3 linked regions of the Homo sapiens genome follow. The protein of the gene in region 2 interacts with the protein of the main gene of each other region in a biochemical or structural test. Each region holds a gene or a part of one and is shown on either strand. Other genes may lie near its edges.

What was found.
Region 1: of the proteins of APOBEC3G (region 2) and USP3, one has a biochemical effect on the other in vitro, tested with the Homo sapiens proteins (one study listed by BioGRID).
Region 3: of the proteins of APOBEC3G (region 2) and ASB9, one has a biochemical effect on the other in vitro, tested with the Homo sapiens proteins (one study listed by BioGRID).

What each region holds. Positions count from the first base shown.
Region 1 is NC_000015.10:63,507,533-63,515,159, reverse strand, and holds part of USP3 (ubiquitin carboxyl-terminal hydrolase 3), read right to left. Parts: intron 3,185-7,627; exon of another isoform or gene 1-3,184. UniProt on the Homo sapiens protein: Deubiquitinase that plays a role in several cellular processes including transcriptional regulation, cell cycle progression or innate immunity.
Region 2 is NC_000022.11:39,072,766-39,080,577, forward strand, and holds the start of APOBEC3G (DNA dC->dU-editing enzyme APOBEC-3G), read left to right. Parts: upstream 1-4,509; 5' UTR 4,510-4,596; coding exon 4,597-4,613; intron 4,614-6,166; coding exon 6,167-6,320; intron 6,321-7,812.
Region 3 is NC_000023.11:15,243,113-15,246,336, forward strand, and holds the end of ASB9 (ankyrin repeat and SOCS box protein 9), read right to left. Parts: intron 1,519-3,224; coding exon 1,394-1,518; 3' UTR 875-1,393; downstream 1-874. UniProt on the Homo sapiens protein: Substrate-recognition component of a cullin-5-RING E3 ubiquitin-protein ligase complex (ECS complex, also named CRL5 complex), which mediates the ubiquitination and subsequent proteasomal degradation of target proteins.

The sequences.
Region 1 (7,627 bases), on a different chromosome or scaffold from region 2:
TAAACGAGGGGAAAGGATAGTGGGAGGAAGGATAAAAACCACTAAAGCCAAAGGAGATTACTAAATCAGAGTCAAAATGGGCCATTTTTGCCTTTGGAAGACCAGACACAAATAGCTTCAAAAAATTATTAGGAGCTCAAATTGTTTCAAAAATAACTTTCCCTATGAAGCTGATCATATAGAAAATAAAAACAAAAGCCATGAACTACTTAAAAATTCTGACATCTAATATCTTCATTTATTTAATACAGCAAGATCTGATGCAATTCCATGCTGTTGCCAACAACCTGAGTAAGCAAGTCCATGGTGAAACAGTGGTGGCACTTCAAAAGACATGAATCAGGTCATAAATGTAAACACCACTCAACTATTATTTCAAAATAATAGTTGCAAGTGTATGCAATATAAGAAAAGACTCGTATATATTTAAGGAAGCACCCCCTCTCACAAGTAAATAAAATAATTAAGAGGTTTAGGGACCTCTTAACATCAAAGACTTTCCTTGGAGAACAATAGGCTTAATATCTGCATTGTACAATTCTCTTCCTCATTCTCTGTGGTTATGTAATAAAGGTTAACACTAAAGTACAAAGTGGAGGGGGAAAAAGTACCACACTTGTACTTACTGGGAAACTCTTTATTCTTTTAAAATCAACGGGACTTATTTTGAAGAAATAGAAAAAAGAAATACAAACTTGGCAAATACGTATACTCTGCCCGAGGGATAGATAATCAATATTTCAGAAAACAGGCACCTGCAAACTCCAAAACCATTAACTATTTCAGTTTTTCTAAATAGCTGTTCTAATTATTTAACCAAAACCAAGAGTCGGAATTTTTTTTTACAATCGATAGAATTTTCAAACATGACCCACATTTTCCCAAAAATCTGTATTATATATTCGAAGAAAAAAACTAGAAATACATATATTTTTTAAATGAGGCTCTAAAAAAAACTATATATAAACAAAACATTCAAAGCAAATAAAATGAAACTAACGCATTTAAGCTCTCAGAATTAAATTCTCATGGCACGAATGTTGAGGTCTGGCAGCTACTTCATACACTTAAGGTGAAGTCTGATCCTTCAGTTTTTATAAAGCAATTTCTCCAATGCTAAAGCATCTCACTATTAATATCCAAAATAATTCACATGGAAATAAGAGTTAATCTTAATGAAACCAAAGAACATTTTACTGTGTGCAACTAAAATTAAAATTTGCTCAACCAGCAATTTGTACCATTGTTGCTCCCACAGTCTCTATATTATACAGTTATTTTTTAAATGCCTAATATAGTAGAACATTTTTCTAACATGTCATCCATCGATTATCTCAGGGAAACATTCCAAGTCAGAAATTTGTTTTCTAGAAATTTCAACTTGATATTCAAAAACTTTAATCAAAATATTACTCCGGCATTGTGCAACAAATGTTCAAAACAAAGTAATGAACAATTTAAATCTATTATTTAAAAAAGAAAACCCACCCAGACTGGTGGCTCATATCTGTAATCCCAGCACTTTGGGAGGCTGAGGTGGAAAGATCACTCAGAGTCAGAAGTTCAAGACCTGGGTAACATCGAGACCCTATCTCTACAAAAAAATTTAAAAATTAGCTGAGCGTGGTGGCACATGCCTGGAGTCCCAGCTACTTGGGAGGCTGAAGTGGAAGGATCACTTAAGCCCGCGAGTTCCAGGCTGTAACGAGCTATGACTGCACCACTGCACTCCAGACTGGGTGACAGAGTGAGACTCCATTTCCAAAAAATAAATAAATAAGCAAAAATAAAAACCTGAGCTTGGTCATCAAGGACAAAGATTTAAAGAAGGTAGAACAATAACTGTACTTTCTTATAATCAGTTAAATTAAACCTGCGGGAATATGACAGTTAATTTCCAGCCTGCTTTTTCTGGTGATGAGGCAGTACAAGAACAGTCCATAAAATTAAGTGTCTTCAGGGTGGGTGAAGGATAAACAGGCCAACAATTTCTACAAAGAAGGCTGTCTTAAACCCAGCTAGAACAAAGAAAAAATAACAGGAGAAAACTTCTACTCAAGAATGGAAACAGCTCACACTGATAGAGCTACTGGATTCTAAAGCAGAGTACAAAGTCTCCAAATAAAATCTAGTTGGTTACAATATCTTTGATATAACCTGGCTTATCTTAAAAATAAACTCACAATTCCCTCTTCAAAGGGTCTTATAAAATTATATTAGCTAGTATTTATTAATTGTGAAGCATCTAACTAATGCAAACACTTAAGACAACTGCAAATTTGATTTTTCAATGTTCAAGTTTAATTTCAACAGTTTTCAAAATCTGAAATTGCCTTCCTAAATTCATCTGCATTGTATACATCCATAAAGAGCACACACTGAAAAGATACACTTCCTTGTATCTTAAGAAAGGGGGAGGCCTGGTGCAGTGGCTCACACCTGTAATCCCAGTATTTTGGGAGGCCGAGGCAGGTGGATCACAAGGTCAGGAGTTCAAGACCAGCCTGGCCAACACAGTGAAACCCCGTCTCTACTAAAAACACAAAAATTAGCCAGGCATGGTGGTGGCTGCCTGTAATTCCAACTACTTGGGAGGCTGAAGCAGGAGAATCACTTGAACCTGGGAGTGGAGGTTTCGGTGAGCTGAGATCGTGCCACTGCACTCCAGCCTGGCCAAAGAGTGAGATTCCGAAGAAGAAGAAAGAAGAAAGAAAAAGAAGGAAGAAAGAAGAAAGAAAAAGAAAGAAGAAAGAAGAAGAAGGAAGAAAGAAGAAAAAGAAAGAAGAAAGAAGAAAGAAGAAGAAGAGGAAGAGGAGGAAGAGGAGGAAGAGGAAGAAGAGGAAGAAGAAGAAGAGGAGGAAGAAGAAGAGGAAGAAGAGGAAGAAGAAGAAGAGGGGAAATCTGTTTTAAGATCTGCAGTTACTGGCTAGGCACGGAGGCTCACACATGTAATCCCAGCACTTTGGGAGGCCAAGGCAGGAGGATCACGAGGTCAGGAATTTGAGTGAAACCCTGACTCTACTAAAGATACAAAAAATTAGCCGGGTATGGTGGTGTGCGTCTGTAATCCCAGCCACTCAGGAGGCTGAGGCAAAGAATTACTTGAGCCCGAGAGGCGGAGGTTGCAGTGAGACAAGATCGTGCCATCACACTCCAGCCTGGGGAACAGGGTGAGACTCCATCTCAAAAAAAAAAAAAAAAAAAAAGATCTGCAGTTACTAGTTTTAGTTTTTATGGTCTAAAGACTATAACTTTTACAGGAAATACAATTGGAAAATCTTAGAATAACTAAATGGAATCAACAAAGTATACTGACTAAAAGCAAAGATTTCAAATAATCTCTGAGCTACCAGAAGCAAATGCAAAATTCTATACCTTAAGAATTCTCTCCTTCCTCCACCCTACAACAAACCACCTCCAAGAAGAATCTTCTCTAACAGAAACAAAATGAAAAAATAAGGGGGGTGGAGAGACTTCAATAACTGAAACCCATTTTAAAAATAACCAAAAGCTAATTGCATTTTATCCATAGCTATAGTGAGGAGGCTGGTTTATTATGTCTGAACTAATGCAATATGAATTTCGGCCTATAAAAATATTAGATCTGAGTATAACAAGGTTGACATTTAAAATAGTTGTTTCTTCCAAACTATATCACCAATTCCTTGTTCCAACTTGCCAGCACTTTCAATATTAAATTGGGTGAGGGGGGTAACAAAAGACCAAATTTTAAAATAAGTAATTTTTGAGATGTGGAACTTAAAATATATTTTCATATCAAAAATCTTCAAAGGAATTATTTAAAGTATGTGTTCCAAACATTTTGTATTTTTTAAATTGTCAAGCATTAAGTTACTGAATAACAAAATAAAGACTCTTTTTTTTTTTTTTTTAAGAAAAAGCAAGCTAAAAGTCTGAACAGTGTTAGAGTTTAAGCTTTGGGCTATCTTTAATACTCCCCAAGCATCTTGGGCAACTCGTAACCTTTGTCTCAGTTTCATAATCAATAAAATAGGAAAAACTACAAGGATGAATAATTAATTAAATTAGTCAGGATTAAATGCTAGCAAACTGCTTTGAAGTTACTTTATGTTGTTCTCAGTTATCTTCCTACTCAGTAAAACTAATAGATGAGAAAACATCTGGAATTACTATAGATAATCACATCTGCAGACTCACAGCAGTTAAAAAGACGATCTCTACAAATTTCTAAGCCAAAGTTCATTCAACGACCCCAAAGATTTTAAGATACAACCACAATGAACAATTTTAGGTGAATTTCTTTTCAGTCTCAAGGACACCTATTCTTACCTACATTCTCAAAAGAAACCACTACACAGAAATCTCAGAGCATCTTGAGGGGTCTTGGCACAAGACAATTCTAGGTAAGATGAACAAGCTGTTACTGTTGTTAATGCTATTCTCAGCATTCTAAACTGTCAATCAAGGTAAGCTTAATCACAAACACACCCTCCAAAAAGTACTAGCCCCTACTGAGAACCCATCAAAGTACTTCCTTCCAAGCCATCTGTCCAGGAAAGCTCTATTAACACACCTAGAATGCAATTGCTCTCCTGTCTAAAGAGGCAATGAATAAACATAAAATATCAAAATATGTTAAACAGCATACCTTTTCCACTTCAAACAATGATAATCTACCGACTAAATCTATTTATTTCAATGCCTTGGTTGAACACAAACCTGTATGTATGTAGGTCAGAGACTGCAGCTTAATCAAAGGAGACTAACATTTTGTTTTCAAAGAAGGAAAAATATTAAAAACAAACAAACAAGCTCAAGAAGGGGAGAAAAGCTCAAAAAGAAAAAAAACGAGCAGGTTAGGTTAGGGGAAATGTACATGTTAATCAGCTCCTGATGGAAGAGGGACTCAAATTTTAAAACAGGAATTTAAATGACTCACTGAGCTACACACTAAATTACTCACTGGTCTACTCACTGAGCTGCAAACACTATAAAAACATAAGTATTTCTAAATCTAGCTTGAAGGATCCAAAATCAATCTTTTATATTCCAGTGGAGAAGGAAATTACATACATTTCAATGAGGAAAAAGGAGGCTGTTACACGAGCCTAAGGCTAATGGTGTACAAGCAAAGAATGAGAATAAATTATTTTGAGGATAAATAACAGGAAACCACACCAAAGAGTTCGAATTCTTCCCCCAACTCCATCATTTCTTCTGCTTAGACCATGAAGGATGTTCTGTATACACTATTAAGCATATTATTAGGGAAAGAACTTCTCATCAATGTGTCAAAACTTCTTCACAACAAGTAAATGTTAGGCTCAATCTCTATACTGAAGCTTCTTTAAACAAAACACATACATGGAGCACATTCTAAATTTCACACATTTCACATCCATGAGCAATCATTTAGAGACTCTAGAAATAAGCTGAGATTGCTCTAAGATTCTGGGGGACGGGGTTGGGGAGGAATACTGCAGAAAGACTAGAAAGACATTTGACTTAAGCTTTATAAATATTACCAAAAAAGTTTAAATTCTTCAGAAGGATATATAAAACTCAAATACTACTTTTTAGAATTAATGTGAAAAAAGTATCACCTGTCCACTGATTTTTAACTACCCCATCCACATTTACAACTAAATTGTCCACCTGCCCATCTATAAATACAGACTGCCAAAAGAACACAAATTCATTGTGATAACAACACTGCAGATGGTCATTTGCTCACAATCCAGCCAACGTTTACTGACTAAAATACTGGGAGTGCGGGCTAGTGAAAGCATTCTGGGGAAAGTTCACTCTGCGTTTATTTTCAACATAAAGACCCTGCCAGACACATCTAAGTGATAGTTCCTTTATTTATCAGGCAAATATTTACTAATTGCTCTATTAAGTATTAGGCACTTAATAAAGACATCATAGAATGTTACTAAAAAGCAGTAAAAGCATTTGACCTAATGACAAGGAAATGACTGATTGTATTTAGAAAATTTAGTCCACTGGGCAAACGAGTGTTAAATGTAGGTTGTGGAGAAATACGATACAAAATAACCCATCACTCCATCAAGGTTGATTTCTTCTCTTTATCACAACCTGATCAGTCCATTACAAATTTATTACCACTGACAACCAATAATCAACACCTCATCCTACTGAATGGATCTCTTAAAAAAGGGTTTATCTCCAGTATTTTGGGTGGAATTATCTGCAGTTTTTGGTGCAAAATTGCAGAACATTTACTTGATCTACACTTACTTTTCTTGGGTAGAGTAATATGAAGGCAAGTGTGTACTGAAAACTTAAAGAGGCACTCTCAACTCATTGAAGAATTAATCAGGGAAAAATTAGCATGCCTATCCTACTAAATATCTCTAATTTAACTGGCTGTTTAACCCAAACCCTCAAGTTCAAATGCTTGGTCCTTGGCTTTCCTTAGTTATCAAAACACTTGCATTCAGGGCATCTTTTTAAACAATTTTTGTTTTTTCCCACTGGTTAAACTCTTTTACCCACAAAAATAAGGAATGCCCAAGCCTCCAACTTCTGAAAATAACATCTGGTATGTGCACATAACAAAAAGCTTGAGAGAATGCCCTTTTATTTAAAACTTTTTCATTTTAAACTAGAATCCCTTAAGCAACAATTAGACATAAATCAGCCTTTACGTTATTAGGAGATAGCTATTTTCAACATTTACCTTAAACCACATGGATGTATCTTCTAACTAGTTAGCTTCCTGTCTCTCCCCCAGCTAGATTAGACTGTTAACTTTTTTGGCAGCAAAGGACTACTAGAGCCCATGCTCTATTTCCCAGCTAATACATTTCAAAAACCTCAGGTCTCTACAGAAACATAAACGTTGGTAGCCTTAAGGATTTCTCTAATTTTTTAAAGTTATTTTGATATGAGCAGGTATCCTTAACTGTTAACTATAGCTTACACAAGTGGGTTCTCAAAGTGTGGTCCTGGACCCCTGAAAGTTTCCAGGACCCATTCAGGGGATCCAGAAGGTCAAAACAATTTTCATACATAATATTTAAGATGTTACTTTTGTTTACAGTCATTCTCTCACAAGCATGCAGTGGGGTGTTCCTGAGGCTGCATGATGTGACATCTCAAGAGACTGAATGCAGAAGCAATGTAAGAATCCAGCTGTCTTCTATAAAGCTGAACAAAGAGTTACAAAAAGGCAAAATAATGCCATTCTTCCCACTAAATTTTTGTTTTGAAAAACATTTTACATAAACTGTCAATTTATGTTATGGGTGTGGGTCTATTATTATTTGTAAGCATATTAATAAATACATATTTTAAGTTTTTCTCAGTTTTAATTTCTAATAAACATCATCAACAGATATAAGCTACACGAAGGCTCTTCAGGTGCTCAACAATTTTTAAGAGTGTAAAGGGGTCCTAAGATCAAAAAGTGTAAGAACCACTGTCATACACAATTATATAACCCAACACACAGTGCCTTCCATGGATAAGAAGCTCATGCTAATTCTGAAGTATAATTACTTCTTACTTCTTGTAATCTTGTTGAGTTCTGTATCTCCCTGTAAAGCATCATTCAGCATAAAGCCAGTCTGTTCTAGTCCCCATTTAATGGGCTTTGGATATTTAATTATTCAGAGTCCTC
Region 2 (7,812 bases):
GCCTAGGGAACGTGACTGAGAAAGAGCCAAGAAAACACTCAGTGATGAAGTTGGTGTTTAAGTAAGATTTTCAGTGAAAAGTAGAATTGGGTACTACATGGAGGCTTGAGATGTTCAGAGCTTTTTGAGAAAGCAGAACAGAAAGTAGAAGGGCAACCAGGAACCAGAGGTGCCAGAGAACCGGAAGCGCGGGCCCTCCGAGGAGACAGGGAGTGGGCACCTGGATCTTGGGCCTGTCAACGAAGAGTCAAACTCAGTAAAATATTTGAAGAGATGTATTCTCAGCCAAATACGAGTGACCACGGCCTGTGACACAGCCCTCAGGAGGTCCTGAGAACATGTGCCCAAGGTGGTGGGGGTGCAGCTTGGTTTTATACATTTTAGAGGGGCATGGGCCATCAATCAAATACATTTAAGAAATACAGGAGCTGGGCGCGGTGGCTCACACCTGTAATCCCAGCACTTTGGGAGGCTGAGGCAGGTGGATCACGCGTTCAGGAATTCAAGACCACCCTTGCCAACATAGTGAAACCCCGTCTCTACTAAAAATACAAAAAATTACCCGGGTGTGGTGGTGTGCACCTGTAATCCCAGCTACTCGGGAGATTGAGGCAGAAGAATTGCATGAACCCAGGAGGCAGAGGTTGCAGTGAGCCAAGACCACACCACTGCACTCCAGCCTGTGGGACAGAGCAAGACTCTGTTCCAAAAAAAAAAAAAAAAAAAGAAAAGAAAAGGCCAGGCGTGGTGTCTCATGCCTGTAATCCCAGCACTTTGGGAGGCCAAGGCGGGCGGATCACGAGGTCAGGAGATGGAGCCCAGTCTGGCCAACATAGTGAAACCGCGTCTCTACTAAAAATACACAAAAAGTTAGCCGGGCGTGGTGGTGTGCACCTGTAAACTCAGCTAGTCAGGGGGCTGAGGCAGGAGAATCGCGTGAACCCGGGAGGCAGAGGTTGCAGTGAGCCAAGATTGCCCCACTGCACTCCAGCCTGGGCGACAGAGCAAGACACAATCTCAAAAAAAAAAAAAAAAAGAAAAGAAAAGAAAAAGAAAAAGAAAAAAGAAAAAAAGAAACAAAAAAAGTAAAGAAAAGAAATACATTGGTTTAGTCCTGAAAGGTCAGACGACTCAAAGTGAGGGAAGCGGGGTTGGGGGGCTTCCAGGCTACAGGTAAATTTAAACATTTTCTGGTTGAGGATGGGTTGAGTTTGTCTAGAGACCTGGCATCCATAGAAAGGAAATGTTCAAGTTAAGATAAAAGACTGTGGAGACCAAGGTTATTTTGAAGTCTCATAATGGCTGCCTTTAGAGATAATAGATGACAAATGTTTGCTATTCAGGTCTTTAAAAGGTCCAATTAGTTAATCTGTTTAGGACTGGGAAGGCCTAGAAGAAAAAGATCCAGCTATGTTAATAGAGGTTCTTTACAGATGCAAATTTTCCCCCACCGGGGACAACTTTGCAGGGCCATTTCAGATATGGCAAAGAAACATGTTTTGGGGTAAAATATTTTATCTTTCTTCTTTGTCACATAATGTTGTGTCTGAGTCAGATTGGAAAGTAACTCACAATATATAGGGTTAAATAAAACCCATTTGTGCCAGGCGCAGTGGCTCATGTCTGTAATCCCAGCACTTTGGGAGGCCGAGGCGGGTGGATCATCTGCAGTCGGGAGTTCGAGACCAGCCTGGCCAACATGGTGAAACCCCATCTCTACTAAAAATACAAAAATTAGCCAGGCATGGTGGCGGGGACCTATAATCCCAGCTACTTGGGAGGCTGAGACAGGAGAATCGCTTGAACCCGAGAGGCGGAGGTTGCAGTGAGCCGAGACCGCACCATTGCAGTCCAGTCCGGGCAAGAAGAGTGAAACTCGGCCTCCATTAAAATACAATAAGATAAAAAAATAAAAAATAGAACCCCTCTGATGAGGATGTATGGGTTGTAAGGCATGACTCCCCAGACCCCTTAGATAGGATTTTGGGCAAGATTAAATAAAACAAATCAGAGCTTAGTCCAAAGGCCTATGAACTAAAAATAAAGTCTTTAGCCCCCACCGATCCCCCCCAACTTTGGCCCCCAGTGGCCAGGGGTATCTCAGAAAAACCTTAAAACTGAGTTCCCAGCCATGATGGGAGGGGAGGTCAGGCACGCCTCATTATCACCCCACCCTTTTGCAGTTTAGACACAACTGACCAGCAGTAATGTTAAAACAGAATCATAAGACGGGCAGAACCAGAACAGACTCTTCATGGCAATCAGATACCAAATCACAACCAGGACCTCAGGCCGTGCCAGGCAAGGGTGAGATCACACACCCCACACTTAAACAGTCAACTCTGTTCTGCCTGCCACAAGATTTTTCTTTTGCTCTAGCAGCTAAACAAGCACTGCCTCCAGATAAAGATGAAAACAATCCCACCTCACCCAGCGCCCGGACACGGAGTAACAGAGCCCCTGCTCCACAGCCCTAATTCCTACTTTCCCTGAGCAAGAGACTGATTTCTGTAACTTTCTCCAGATCAGAAGACCACAGACCATGGACTAGTTCTGAATGGTTTACAGACCTGGCAAATTTTGGTGCCTTCATGTCCTGAAAGGACCTTTTGACATACAGGCTTAATTGTGGTACATTTAAATGTTGTCTCCACCGCAATGTGAGGACGGATAATACAGCTGCTTTTTTTTTTTTTTTTTTTTAATAGATTGTTGTTTGTTTGTTTTTTGTTTTGAGATGGAGTCTCACTCTGTCTCCCAGGCTGGAGGGCAGTGGTGCGATCTCGGCCCAGTGCAACCTCTGCCTCCCGGGTTCAACTGATTCTCCTGCCTCAGCCTCCCAAGTAGCTGGGATTTCAGGCACATGGCACCACGTCCGGCCAACTTTGGTAGTTTTAGTAGAGACGAGGTCTCACCATGTTGGCCAGGTTGGTCTCGAACTCCTGACTGTCATACATGTCCATATAGAAGACCACCTAAACAGGCTTTGTGTAAGCAATAATGCCATTTATTCACTTGGGTGCAACTGGGCTGAGTCTGAAAAGAGAGTCAGCGAAGGGAGATAGGAGAGGGGCAGCTTTATAGGACTTGGGTAGGCGGTGGAAAGTTACAGTCAAAGGCGGTCATCTGTTGTCAGCAGGGGAGGGGGTCACAAGGTGCATGGTGGGAGACCATGAGACCCATTGTCCAGAAGAAGAATGTCATAAGGTCGATTGATCAGTTAGGGTAGGGCAGGAACAAGTCCTAATGGTGGAATGTCTTAAGGTTGGTTAATCAGTTAAGGGAGAAACTGGCTGTTTCACTTCTTTTGTGTTTTTTTGGCTGTTCCAGACTTCTTGGCTGCTGCAGGCCATCTGGATGTATATGTGCAGTTCACAGGGGTCACAATGGCTTAGCTCTGGCTCAGCGGCCTGACACTGACCTCAGATGATCCACCTGCCTCGGCCTCCCAAAATGCTGGGATTACAGGTGTGAGCCACTGTGCCCGCCTGGGATCATATGTTACACGCATGTTTGTTCAATAAGCATGGAGTGCAGCCACCCACATGAATATTCATAGCTCCTCCTGTAGCCTGTTCAATATGTATGTTTAGCTAACCCCTTCAGCATAAAGCTCCTGCCCCAACCCCTCCTGCTTCTAAATGTCTGTCTCTGGTGTTAACCAGAGGCTGCTCTTCCCAGGCTGCTGGATGGCTACCTTGCAGGCTGTCACCCTTAACAAGAAATAAAGTGTCATTTGCAAATGCATCCCTTGTGTAATTTGTAGGTCACCACGCCATGGGAACACGCTACCAGGGGAAGGGAGCTGTGAGACGCGCAGGGAGGCTCCAGACAGGCTGGCCTGGGACACCAGCCGCTGCCCTTCCATAACATGGGGACAAGAGAGGGCAAAAGTTCAGCCCACCACGGAGGATCTCCGGGCAGGAGATGGGGAAGAAGGAGAAGCAGGAAGGAAAGAGCTCAGTGTGGGGGCGCGCATGGCATCCCGGTGGGACATCTGAGGCCCACACCCACCTGCTGTCCCTCCCTCCCACGGTGGCCTCCGAGGGTGACGGCCTGGGGGGAGGCAGACGCCTGGCCATTTACTCTCCCTCCCTGTCCCCATGGCCGCTGGGTGGGGGCCGTCTCTGGGATGATCCCCGAGGGCAGGATCCGGGAGTCCCTGCGGAGGCATCAGCCTGTCTGTCTTGATGGTGGAGAGGAGGCTCCAGCTGGGCGGGACCACCAGGGGAGGGGCTTGTGCTCTGCTGGCTCAGCCTGGTGTGGACCCACCTCCCGGGCGCTGGCTGCAATGACTTTCTCTTTCCCTTTGCAATTGCCTTGGGTCCTGCCGCACAGAGCGGCCTGTCTTTATCAGAGGTCCCTCTGCCAGGGGGAGGGCCCCAGAGAAAACCAGAAAGAGGGTGAGAGACTGAGGAAGATAAAGCGTCCCAGGGCCTCCTACACCAGCGCCTGAGCAGGAAGCGGGAGGGGCCATGACTACGAGGCCCTGGGAGGTCACTTTAGGGAGGGCTGTCCTAAAACCAGAAGCTTGGAGCAGAAAGTGAAACCCTGGTGCTCCAGACAAAGATCTTAGTCGGGACTAGCCGGCCAAGGATGAAGCCTCACTTCAGGTACCGCTGCCCGCTCTACCCACTGGGCCCCTCTGCTGCCCCTTCTTGCCTGGTGGCTCTGCTGGGCGTCAGCCCTGGCCTTCCCCTGCCCCAGCCCCAGCCCTGGGCTCCCTCCCCTCTGACTCCCCTGCACCCCCTACTCCCAGCCAGGCTCCTTGCCCTGCTGTGTTGTCGCCCCACTGCTGCTTCTGAATGGGCCGCCTCCCCCATCTGTCCCAGCCCAGGTCCCCTGCTGAGACTCTCCCCTGAAAGTCATGGCTGGGGTGGTGCTCCCGGCCCTGGGAGGGTGCTCCCTCTGTGTGCTTCCCGCCATTCCTGAACTCTGGAACTGGGAGAATTGAACCAAAGGATGAGTAGAGCAAGGTGGAATTTTGTTCACAGGGCTTTGATGGATTTTCTGTAAGATTTACTTTGCTTAAATACCAAGTCTTAGGAGAGGGTGTGGGGAGGGAATGGTCTCTGAAGCACAGGATAAATCATGTCTTCCAAGGATGTCTCCACTGTGGGCAGAGGAGGATGCAGATGACCCCAAACACACGCTCCTCCTCCACTATCAGCATTCACTGTTTATAAATGACACCAGTAACATGGAATATAGTGGCCGGGTGCGGTGGCTCACACCTGTCATCCCAGCACTTTGGGAGGCTGAGGTGGGCGGATCGCCTGCGGTCAGGAGTTCAAGACCAGCCTGACCAGCATGGATAAACCCTGTCTCTACTAAAAATGCAAAATTAGCTGGGTGTGGTGGCGGGCGCCTGTAATCGCAGCTACTTGGGAGTCTGAGACAGGAGAATCCATTGAACCCAGGAGGCGGAGTTTGCAGTGAGCTGAGGTCGCCCCATTGCACTCCAGCCTGGGCAACAAGAGCAAAACTTCGTCTTGAAAGAAAAAAAAACAAAAACAAAAGAAAAAACATGGAATATATGGGAAAAAAACTCAATGATCAGGAGGAATGTTGTTATTTTAAAATTTAGTAAGAAGAGAGCCCGGTCCCCAATGGCTGCCTCCTGCAGGGCCAGTGATACAGAGACTGGACAGGGCTGGCCTGGAAAGGGGCCCCCACTCCATTTGTCCCCAGCTCTGTGGCCTGGGCAGGTTACCCCGCCTCTCTGCGCGTCTGGCCCCTCCTCTGTAAGACGGGAATGGCCCCTGCCAGCCTAGGGCAGCCTCACATGAGCTCACCCCCGCGCAGCACTTAGAAGACTGGCCTGGGCCTCAGAATTCGGTTCTACCATGATTTAACAATAATAATATACAGAGGTGAAATGTCAGGAAGGAACTGAGCTGAAAGGTTAAAAGCTGTTATTTTGGGGTGAAGAGTTTTATTCTGTCTCTCTCTCTCTTTTTTTTTGAGACGGAATTTCGCTCTTGTCGCCCAGGCTGGAGTGTAGTGGCGCGATCTTGGCTCACTACAGTCTCCGCCGAAATTCTCAGGGGAGGGGAGGGATGGGGGAGGCCTAGAGCCGTCCAGGGGGCTGTGTTTAGTGGACATCAGCCCGGAGGGCCCCCAGGAGTGCTCTCTACATTGGCTGGTTTCTCTCTTGTGTCTTCAGAAACACAGTGGAGCGAATGTATCGAGACACATTCTCCTACAACTTTTATAATAGACCCATCCTTTCTCGTCGGAATACCGTCTGGCTGTGCTACGAAGTGAAAACAAAGGGTCCCTCAAGGCCCCCTTTGGACGCAAAGATCTTTCGAGGCCAGGTACCACCCGGACTCCAATCACTTTGCAGGCAGGAGCTAAGCCAGCTGGGAAAGCAAACCACGCACTGATAAGTGAAGTGCCCGGCGGCGGGCTATCCAGTGTGTCCTTCTCTCCCACACTTTCCAAGTCCGTGGCCCTGACCTTCCTGCTGGACCGTCCTGGGATCGGATCGTGGAGGGGGTTTGCCTCTGCACAAAAGGCCTTGTGTTTCCGTTTTTCTTTTCTTTTCTTTTTTCTTTTTTTTTTTTGAGACAGAGTTTCACTCTTGTTGCTCAGGCTGGAGTGCAATGACGCGATCTCGGCTCACAGCAACCTCTGCCTCCTGGGTTCAAGCGATGCTGTCGCCTCAGACTCGCAAGTAGCTGCGATTACAGGTGCCCACCACCACGCCCAGCTGATTTTTTTTTTGTATTTTTAGTACAGATGGGGTTTCACCATATTCACCAGGCTGGTCTCGAACTTCTGACCTCAGGTGATCCACCTGCCTCGGCCTCCCAAAGTGTTGGGATTACAGGTGTGAGCCACAGCGCCGGCCTAATTTTAATATTTAATTAATCCAATGTGGCTAACATATTACTTCAACATTAATTAACATAAAATTCTTGACAAGATAATGAAGTTTCTTTTTCTTGTCACACCGAGTCTTTGAAATGAGCTGCGTGGGTCACGTACAGTGGGTGGCTCGCACCTCTAATCCCAGCACTTTGGGAGGCCAAGGCGGGCAGATCACCTGAAGTTAGATATTCAAAACCGGCCTGGGCAACATGGTGAAATCCCATCTCTACTAAAAATACAAAAAAAAAAAAAATTAGCCAGGCATGGTGGCAGTCACCTGTAATCCCAGCTACTCGGGAGGCTGAGGCAGGAGAACCGCTTGATCCCATGAGGCAGAGGTTGTAGTGAGCCAAGATTGCATCCTTGCATTCCAGCCTGGGCAACAAGAGCGAAACTCCATCTCAAAAAAAAAAAAAGAAATGAGTGGTGTATTTTTCAGGTGCCCAGGTCTCTAATCAGAGCCCCATTTCAAGTACTCAGTAGTCCCTTGGCCATGTCACCCCCCCCGACATGGACAGTGCAGGTCCAGTGGGCTCCCCACTGACTGCAGGCAGGGAACAAGGCAGACCCTAGAGGGCCAGGCCACAGTAGGGGCTGAGGATGTCTGGTGAATGGATGCCTGGGAGAATGGATGCTAGAATTCACACACGAGGCCATGAACAGGGCTGGGAAAACTTCCAAACTCAGGGAAGCACGTGTCTTGGTGCACCTTGTGATGCTTCAACAGCAGGACTGAGATGGGGACATTTACAATGAACAGAAATGTATGGGCTCGAGTTCTGGACTCTGGGAAGTCCCCTGTCAATGCACCAGCAACTTTCCAGGGCCTGCGAGCTGCACAGTCACGTGGGGGTGAAGGTTGTTGCCAGAAGCTCAGGGGATGCTCCAGACAGAGTGGCCTGGGATGTCGAGTCACTGCTGCTCCGTGACATGGGG
Region 3 (3,224 bases), on a different chromosome or scaffold from region 2:
AACAGTGCCATCTGCTGGGAAACTAGCTGTGCATTTTAGACTAATATTCTGGAGTCTTTCATATAGCAAATTAAAAATTACAGAAAAATTATATTGGAAATAGATTTAGAGATCATCTAGACCATATGTAATCTTACAGGTAAGGATTTGACTTAAGGAGTTACAATTTTCTTTCGATTGATGCAATGGAGCCCCAAATTCATCTCTCAGAGAGATAACTGAAACTACAGCCATCATTACTAAATTATACCAGTGTTCCTGTAAATCTGAAACTGAAAGGCAGTTAAAAATCCATTCCTCGAGCCTCCAAAGAGCACAGTCCAATAGAAATCTGTTCAATGGGGCAATGGAACTTTCTTCTGCAATAATCTGTACCTGCACTGTTCAATACAGTAGCCACTAGCCATTTGTGCATATTTTATACCTGAAATGTGGCTAATGACACTGAGAAACTGGATTTTTAATTTTACCTAATTTTAATTAATTTACACTTCTAAATAGGCACATGGCTACAGCAGGGTTTCTCAACCTGGGCACTACAGTATTAACAGTTTGGACTGGAAAGTTCTTTGCGGTGGGGCTGTCCTGTACATTGTAAGAGGCTTTGCAGCATTCCAGACCTCTACCCACTACATGCCTGTAGCACCCCTCCTCAGTTGTCACAAACAAAATGTCTCCAGTTATTGTTAAACATCACTGGGTAACAAAATTAACCCCAGTGGAGAACCACTGAACTAGTTGCTACTGTATTAAGCAGCAAGGTTCTAGAATATGCTTAATATGTATAGTGTTTTGGTTGAAAAAAAGAACTGGCGCCCACACTATGCTAGGACAGTAGTGGTTTTGTTGTAACAACAGGGAAGCTTAAAACAAATTAGACAAGCCAAGAAATATGTTTCTTTATTTTCATTCCCATATAGCAGAGATGGAACCAGGACAGTGATGCTGGAAAAGCCTGCCTCGATCAAGTCATCACATAAGTTAATGTCAGAAAACCTGTATTTGAATTTGACTCCTCTATCCTTACTCTGGAAAATTGGACATCTTGACCCAGTGGCTGTGAGGGCTAAATTAGATGATGCAGAAAGTGCTTGGCATGCAGTAGATATGCAAAACAATAACTTATGACACTCTCCATGCAGGGAAAAAAGTCTTCATGCCTTCTAACTAATAATACAAACGTATGCAGTGTCTTTCAACCCTGGCTTGAGTTTAACAAATACAAATTGAATAGAAAAAATTAGTCAAACTCCATAAACAAGTTTATAACAAATACAAATCTAATCGAAAAAACTAGTCAAACTCTATAAATCCAACTTGATTTTAAAATTCTAGTGGCTACAACACTCAATAATGTTTTCACATCGTTTGTGAATCCATTCCCTAGATGCATTTAAAGATGTAGGAGAAACTGTTTCAGATCCTCTGGGAGGACGAGTTTGGTTATCTTATGATGCTGCTGGATTCCAAAACACTTCCGAATTCTAAGGCGGCATAACTGCATCAAAGAAGGGGGCCCTGGAGAAAGATCATAAGACAAGTCATACAATGGTGCTATTGATCTAAGACTCCTTTTTTTTAAAAAAAAAAAGCATCCAAGATAGAACATTGTTATAAGGAAATAATATTGAACTATTTAAGACCATTTTCTGGGGTTTTTTTGTAGAAGGCATTTTTAGGCTATGTTCTCTCTTTTCCGGTAGCTAATTGAAATAAGCTTGTTAGGTTTTTAATTTAGAACAGAGTGAAAGAAATTTAAAGCTTAGCCTCACTAATGGAGGCTTAAATAAGCTAACTTGGGAATTACACAGCTATACAAAAATTCCAATAATACAAATAAAATTTATGTTTAATGGTGTTCTTTTATCTTTAAAAATAAGGGCATATTTCTAGATGCAAACATTTTTATTTTATAACTTGAGCAAATTAAGGTACTCAAAAATAATGAGCTCACAGTGAATCCTAAGAGTATGTGAAGTCGTGTTTGTTTTTACATCCTGTATTCAGAGCTATTCCAATGCTTCAATTCATAAGTGAAAAGTGAACTAGCTAGCACAAACCTTGCTTAGGGAACACCCAACAGTTTACATTTTAGGACAGTGGTTCACAACTGGGAGGAGGCTCAGGGAAGGAAAGGAGGAGGAGATCATTTTGCTCCTCAGGGGACATTTGGCAGTGTCTGGAGACATTTTTGGTTGCCAAAACTTGAGGAAGGGTGCTACTGGCATCTAATGGGAGAGGCCAAGGATGCTTCTAAAAATCCCAGAGTACACAGGACAGCCCCCAACTGATTCAAAATGTCAATAGCGTCAAGGTTGAGAAACTCTGTTATAGGGCAAAAGGATGGGGAATGATTTTCCCTGCCCCCCTACCCCTGTTCCTGCATCAAATTGTAATGGGAATCTTCTTTTGGTTATTTTTTAAAAAGCAAAACTATATACCCTCAAGAACTCCATAAAGCCGTAGCCCTCAATCCAGGTAGCACTTCAGACTCACCTGGGGTGGGGGTACATTCAACTACATGGACGCTGAGTCCCCCCAACCAGGGATGTTGCTTCAGTTATTGTTGGGTGAAGCCCAAGCATCTGGATTTTCTAAAGGCATGTGCCCGAGGTCATCTGAGTGTGCGGTCAGGGTTGTGAATACATCCAAAAGGATACTGTGGTCTCTATTTTCCTATAGCAATACCACCAACTACAGGATCAACCGAGTTAACTTATCTCTCAAGGTGATGCAGAACAAGGAGAGATGGAACTCGACACATATACAATCAAAAAAATACTTGCAGTATTTTAAACCAGGCCCTAACAGAAGGGCCCTGTTGGAGTAAGGCACCTATGAGATGATGCCCAGTATACTCAAAGCATTTAAAAATGAACGGCTTCCCAGTGTTCTCAAGGCACATATTAACGAGCAGCAAAAAGCACACTGTGGGGAAACTGAACCTAATCTAACCTCACTAAGGAATGTTGAAACATGTGACTGATCATCTGTGCTAGAAACGCTGTCAGAGGCAACCGTAGGAGGTACTGATAAAGCATTACAAATAACAAGATCTCAGAGCAGGCCTGATAGAGAATTAAGAAAAGTGGGATGTCACAGGAAACTCAGTGTATTAATAACTACTGATGCCAACTGAATGCTGCTGTTTACTACAAGTAAGACAATGTAAAACAACTGTAGCTTCAAGTCCATAGACACAGAGCTGAAAACCCACTACAGAT